Linked DNA regions of Homo sapiens: region 1 is reported to be linked to region 2. Evidence: microRNA targets listed by miRTarBase, many of them from high-throughput screens and not tested one by one. Region 2 holds a microRNA gene; the other region holds the end of a gene's coding sequence.
The links. The annotated mature microRNA hsa-miR-1-3p reads UGGAAUGUAAAGAAGUAUGUAU and lies in region 2 at 845-866, shown strand. An mRNA with a match to its seed (bases 2 to 7 or 8) in the 3' UTR can be bound and repressed. Matches are read on the target gene's strand: a 7mer-m8 pairs with bases 2 to 8, a 7mer-A1 pairs with bases 2 to 7 and ends in A, and an 8mer does both.

Region 1 (3,279 bases), not on the chromosome of region 2:
GTAGACTTAAGCCAAGCTGTGTGGATTCGAGTCTCAGTGCTGCACCTTCCTAGCTGTGCGACTAGGCAAATCCCTTAGCCTCTCTGTGCCTGCCTCAGTTTCCTCACCTCTAGACTGAGGATTAAAAAACATGCTCACTTGCATATTAGGAATGTAATGAGGACAGTGAACGAGCTTATATAAAGCGGCTGTAATGCTCATAGTATGTGCTTAGTACCCAGGAAATCTCAGCTTATTTGCTGCTAACTGATTGCTAAAAATTCAGATTCCTGGGCAGGGTATGGTAGCTCACGCCTGTAAACCCAACACTTTGGGAGGCCGAGGTGGGCGGATCACCTGAGGTCAGGAGTCCAAGACCACTATGGCCTGGCCAATATGGCGAAATCCCGTCTCTACTACAAAATACAAAAATTAGCTGGGCGTGGTCGTGGGCGCCTGCAATCCCAGCTAGAGGCAGGAGAATCACTTGAACCTGGGAGGCAGAGGTTGCAGTGAGCCGAGATCATGCTATTGAACTCCAGCCTGGGCAACAAGAGCGAAACTCCGTCTAAAAAAAAAAAAAAATTCGGATTCCCAGCCAGGAATGATGGCTCACGCCTGTAATGCCAGCACTTTGGGAGGCCGAGGCGGGAGGATCACGAGGTCAGGAGATCGAGACCATCCTGGCTAACATGGTAAAACCCCGTCTCTACTAAAAATACCAAAAAAATTAGCCGGGCGTGGTGGCGGGCACCTGTGGTCCCAGCTACTCGGGAGGCTGAGGCAGGAGAATGGCGTGAACCCGGGAAGCGGAGCTTGCAGTGAGCCAAGATCGTGCCACTGTACTCCAGCCTGGGCAACAGAGCGAGACTCTGTCTCAAAAACAAAACAACAACAACAACAACGAAAAATTAGCTGGGCATGGTGGTGCACGCCTATAATCCCAGCTATGTCGGGAAGCTGAGGCATGAGAATTGCTTGAACCCAGGAGGTGGAGGTTGCAATGAGCCAAGATTTTGCCACTGCACTCAAGCCTGGGTGACAGAGTGAGACTTTATCTAAAAAAAAAAAAAAAAATCAGATTCCCAAGCTCCTCCTTCCCTGGGGATCCTGATTCAATAGGTTGGGACTAGATACTGGGGGATCTGTGATTTGAATGATGCTCCTAAGCAAGTCAGAGGTTCAAATATGTTTGGGAAGTGGAAGGATATGCTCCCTAAATCTTTCAATGATCCCAGGAGGGAAGTACTGTTGTCTTCATTTTGTAGATGAGAAAACCGGCTCAGAGGGAGGACCCACACCAAATAAGTAAAGATGGGACTTGAATTCACAGCCAGGACACCAGGGTGCTTCAGAGAATCCTAGGGGAGCTTACATAAATAATGTGCTAAAGCACAAGAGGCTAAGTATTTGATGAAAGTAGCTAATATCATCACCAAAGAAACCGTTTAAATTGTGCCTCTCACTGGGCATACCACTGCTGGAACAAGGGGGCAGACAGAACCTAACATAAAAGCCTTTTGTCTCCACGACCTGAATTATTTTGCTGGGGGAGGGAGCATGTGGATGAATTGTAGAGGCTGCAAACTGCGGGGAGGAGTGAAGGGATCTGAGGTATGTGAGTGGGTACAAGAACTGGGATATTCAAGAGGAACTGACGGGAAGGATGCCAAGGGAAATCAGACAGATGTGGGACAGACTTATCCCAGAGCCCCAAAATTGATCTCCCCCGTATCAGCATGGAATTGTCTCTGAAGTATCATAGTACTAAGACCCCGGAGAGTCCAGTGAGGGAGGGATGGGGTATGTCGATGGATTGGGAGATGGCTGGGTGAATATGTATGGATGGCAAAATGAGTGGATGAATGGACAGATGGAAATATGGAGGGAGAGACGGACTGATGAACGGAGTGCTGGATGGAGAAGATGGGTAAGTGGGAAGATGGATAAATGGAGGGATGGAATGCCAGATGGGGTTAGAATGATAAAGGGATGGGTGGGTGAATAAGGCAGACAGTTGGATAAGCAAGGCAGATACGTGAGATGATGGATTGGAAGATGGGTAGATGGAGCGGGAAAGCTAGATGGAGCAATAGCCAGATGGATAGGTGGAGAGATGGCAGGGTGGGTGAGATGAACGGATGGTGGGAGACGTGAACTGTATAAATTGCCAAGGGAATGGATTTCTAGTGTCTACTTGAAGCAAAGCTTCTTAACTTGGCTTTCCTGGATGGGCATCAAGCAGTTCACACACACGCCAAGTTATAGTGGGTCCATTTTCCAATAATTCTCAAAGGAGTCTGAGATTCCCCAAGCTTTCAGAACCGCTGATTTGTTCTGTGTCAGACCTTCCCATTCATTGTCTTGTCATCTCCCACAGCCTCCAGAATGGGAAAATACACATCATTGCATGAAAGAATCAGTATTAACAAAACATTAATGACATTCCTCCCTTCCCCATCCCTGTGGATCAAGGCAAGAAGGGCCATTCGCCGATGCAGATACCAGGAGTTGGAAGGCCGCAGCAGTTTTGAGGCCTGCGTTCAGTGTCTGGACTTCCAGGTCAAGTTCTGAGGGTCTATGGCATCTGGCTGAAATCCTTGCTTCAGGGAAGCCTCATGTCCTGGCTCACATGTGGAAGGGGGCATCAGGAGCCCCCTGGGCCCTGTGAAGGCCCATAGATTCCTGTGTGGAGGCCAAGAGAGCAGGGTGGTTCAACCGGACCTGGGCCTTGGCTGGCCGCAGCCGCCCACCCCCGCCCACGTGGATGTTAACCGTCGTGGCATAGCTGAGCCGCCTGGCTGGGGGAGGTGGTGGCTGGGGCTGGGGGGGCGGCGAAGATGCCCGTGACGTGGGAGCAGAGGACCAGGAGCCCCGGGAGGCTGCGGGGGCCCCTCCCCCAGGCCCCTGCCGCCGAGCCAGGCTCTGGCTGATATATGAGGCTGCCAGGTATCTGGAGAGGGCAGCTGCATTGGGGCCCAGGAGCTGACGGCTGGAAGGTGGGGGACTATGAGGTGGCGTCAAGTCTGAAGACTCCAACCTGGCAACGTGAGAGGCTAAGGAGCCTCCTGGTTTGGACAAAACCATGGTGGTCTGAACTGGGGTGGGTGAGAGGCCCTGAATGTCTAGAGAGCCTCCTCTCTCAGGTAAAGGTGTGGCAGCTGGAACATGGGCATCTATGAGGCTCTTCTGCTCCAACGAAGGTGTGAGTTTTTGGACCTGTGTATCTGTAAGGCTTGGCTCCGGAAGTGGAGGTGCAGCCGCTGGACCCTGGATGTCTGGGAGGCTTCCCTGCTTGGG
Region 2 (3,279 bases):
CAGGAGATCCTGACCACCCTCTGGGAACCTGGACTCCTCCAAGCATCGTCTTTCTCGCCTGCATCTTCGGAGAGAGGTGCTGAGCCCTTCCTCATGGATACGGGGTCCCGGGAGGCAGCCTTCACCAGGGACCTGCCCAGGAAACCAGCAGATGCCCAGGTAAGCCCCCAGGACACCTCTCGGGTCTCTGGTCTGCAGTTCCTCGTCTGGCCTCAGGAGCAAGGAGTTGTCCAGCTCCCGGAGAAGGAGGAGGCTGGTCCTGCGAGTGGGGTGCTGGGCAGGGCGCCCCCCAAGGTTCCTCTCTCCACCCAGCCCTCTCTGGGCTTGGCTGGGATGAGGTGACCCAGGGGGACAGGAAAGTGTTGGCTTTGAAAGTTTGGGACATGGATGATGCCTCCCTGCTCTGGGGTGAGGGTGGAGGGGCAGCCTGTCTCTTCCATGGACGCAAAACCGAGCTACTGCTGGGGCCAGGGACAGGCGCTCGAGACTTTCTGGGGCTCACTGTCCACTTCTGCCTTTCTGGATCGTGTGAGTGTGTGAGACAGACAGAGAGAGATGGATTCAGGGATGGAGGGGCGCCGAGGTCAGAAGGGGGCAGGGAGTCCTGGGCCCCTGGGGGTGGCTGGACACCAGGCAGCAGTGGCAGGAAGGCTGTCCTGCTCACACAGAGAGGGCTCCGGCAGTAGACTCCAGGGAAGAAGTTACACTGCCTCTGAGCTGCCTTCTCTACATCGCAGTGGGGTCAGCTTCTACCGGGGCGGCGTCCCGGGGTCTTGGAACTGCATGCAGACTGCCTGCTTGGGAAACATACTTCTTTATATGCCCATATGGACCTGCTAAGCTATGGAATGTAAAGAAGTATGTATCTCAGGCCGGGACCTCTCTCGCCGCACTGAGGGGCACTCCACACCACGGGGGCCGCCGCGGCCGACAGCCAGCCAGGCGGCTGTGGTGGGGGTGAGGCTGGGGCGGCAGGCTGCCTGGGCGTTGGTGGACGGTCGTGTCCCCGCCAGCATTGTTCTGTCACTTTGCCTGTGTCAGCAGGTGGAAGTGCTCACCAGACATTAAATATTCAGCTTGCTGACTGCGGCAGAGGGGAGGCGGCCTCCGGCAGGCGCGGGGTCCAGCGCGGGGCTGGTGAGGGCTGGGGGGTCGGGGCCGTGGCTGGAAAGCACGGAGTGGTGGCGGCGGCTCTGGGGGCTCCACTGATGGCCATCCTGGAAGAGGCCATCAGCCGGCAGAAAGGGCCACGTGTGGCCAGGGCAGAAACTGCTCAGAGGCACAAGACAAGAGCGAGTTTGGAAAAGGGCAGGTGGCTGGATGCAGAAAGGAGGGAGAGGCTGGGCAGCACATGGTAGAGTCTGCGGAGGGAAGGCACCTCCTGCACCTGCATCCAGCCCTCCCGGCTGTAGGGCAAGGCAGAGGAACTCGGAGGCATGTAGCCTCCAAGGAAGGCGCAGCCCACACGAGATGCTGGGGACGCGGGCAGGGTCAGGGCCACCACTGCCCTTAGGCCCCACTCCTCTGCCGAGGGCACCTGGGACAGGGTCAGAGGAGCTGAGTCTGTGCAGCCCTGAACCCACAGCCCACCCCAGGGGCCTGGGAGCCGTTCGATTTTGCCAAATGTCTGGTTCATGCCGCCCCAACCTGTACCCCCACCAAAGCCCCGGTTCAGCTTTCTCTCTGTTCCGCCGAATCCAACCTGAGGCATGTTTTGCTGTGAATGCAGGTGAGGCTTTGGCAGAAAGCAGCGTGTGGCCCAGGGCCCCTTGCCCCACCTGTCGGGGGCCTGAGAGCCATCTGCTCTGCCGCCATCCCAGTCCTGACCCGAGAAAGGACTGGGAGGATGTCCTGGGGCCCAGGGGATGAGGGCAGGTCCGGATCCGTCCGTGAAACCCTTTTCCCCAGTGCTGGTCCTTCAAGGAGAGGATGGGCGGCGGGTTCTGGGGTCTTAGGCAGCGGCTGGGCTGCTGTGTGAGGGGCGTTTGCCCGGCTCGTTTCTGAGTCTCAGATTGGAGGCGTTTGCCACCTGGGATGAGGCCAGGTCCCTGCCTGGGCACCCCCACCCTGCCACAGGCCTCAGGATTAATTTCTGGGGTGTGTGTCCTCTCTGCCTTGGCACTGCTCCAGCCACAGCGGTGCCCCTGTGCCCTACCTCCCGCACCCTGGCCTTCGGCAGGAATGAGGCGGGAAGGGACAGGCAGGCAGCCCCCTCCTGCAGCGGCTGGAGGCCTTGGGTCTGGGGGCAGCCAGGTCACCTGAGCAGCTGGGGCCAGCATAGGGAGCGCTGGATAAAGGGATTGGGGGCCGTTCTGAGCTTTCAGGTGGCTCCCACCCCTCAGGGAGCCTCGAGGTGACTGGAGGGGAGGGCCTGGCAGTCAGGGCTCCTGGCCTTCAGGTCTTCCTTCTGGAAACTTCGTTCTCCCAGCCTCAGCCCCATCTGGCGTAGCAGCAAGGGGGCGGGTGTTGACCTCGGGCACAGCCTCCTCTCGGCCTCTGGACCCGGAGGGTCAGTGCCCAGCATCCGCTGACGTCATCTCTTCCCTGCCTGCTCCCAGCTCCGGCCACAGGGAGGGAAGTAGCCGGGCGTGTGGCCACCGAGGCTGCCGGTGGCCACAGACACACCGTTCTTTTCCCCTAGATGCGGCTGTTGTACATTAAAGCTTTATTGCAGGATGTGGTGTTTAAATAAAAGCATTAGTGTTTTGGAATTAGGTTTGACTGAGCAGTAAAACTGGAGAGTTCACAGGGAGAGAGCTGCGGCCTGCTTGGCGGTAAATCACCTCCAGTCTCTGATCTGCTGAATTAAAAATGAGCATTGCACGGACACCGCCCATGGCAGCCCGAGCCCCTCTCCCCTGCACGTGTGGCCTGATGGTGCTCCCTGGGGATCCTGCTGCTTTCCTGGAGACACTGGGACCCGGGGCTGGAGTCTCCCATGCGTGAATCTCTAAAGCTTGGCTCCCGGGCAGCAGCCAGGACGGGAACCCCAAACTGGCGTGGGGCATGGACACGCTGGGACTTTCCCCTGTGGGGGTCTTTGTGCCTGTCCGTTTGAAGGAGGGGAGAGCAGGCAGGGCGGGGGCACAGACCCTCACTGGCTATGTCTTGCCCGCAGGGACTCTCCTGAGACGGCTTAGGCACGCTACCATGGGGGCCGGGACTCTCAGAGGGAAATGAGCCTGGACTGGGCTGAGGGGGCTGGACATGGGACACCCACCCCCTCGCCTGCCAGCTCGGGAACCCAGGTGGGTTTGTGTGGCCATGAGGAGGTGGCCA

Region 1: miRTarBase lists PLEKHG2 as a target of hsa-miR-1-3p. Seed matches in the 3' UTR shown: 7mer-A1 at 1,939-1,945 and 7mer-m8 at 149-155.

What each region holds. Positions count from the first base shown.
Region 1 is chr19:39,424,623-39,427,901 of GRCh38, reverse strand. It overlaps PLEKHG2 (pleckstrin homology and RhoGEF domain containing G2), which reads right to left. Exons shown (of 19, transcript NM_022835.3): 19 at 1-3,279. The coding sequence ends at 2,608. Among named protein-coding and RNA genes, the nearest start is that of RPS16, 9.7 kb to the left of the region's middle.
Region 2 is chr20:62,553,507-62,556,785 of GRCh38, forward strand. It overlaps MIR1-1 (microRNA 1-1), which reads left to right and starts at 800; the gene lies at 800-870. MIR1-1HG (MIR1-1 host gene) reads left to right here. Exons shown (of 4, transcript NR_171007.1): 2 at 1-159. RefSeq lists an enhancer at 3,214-3,279.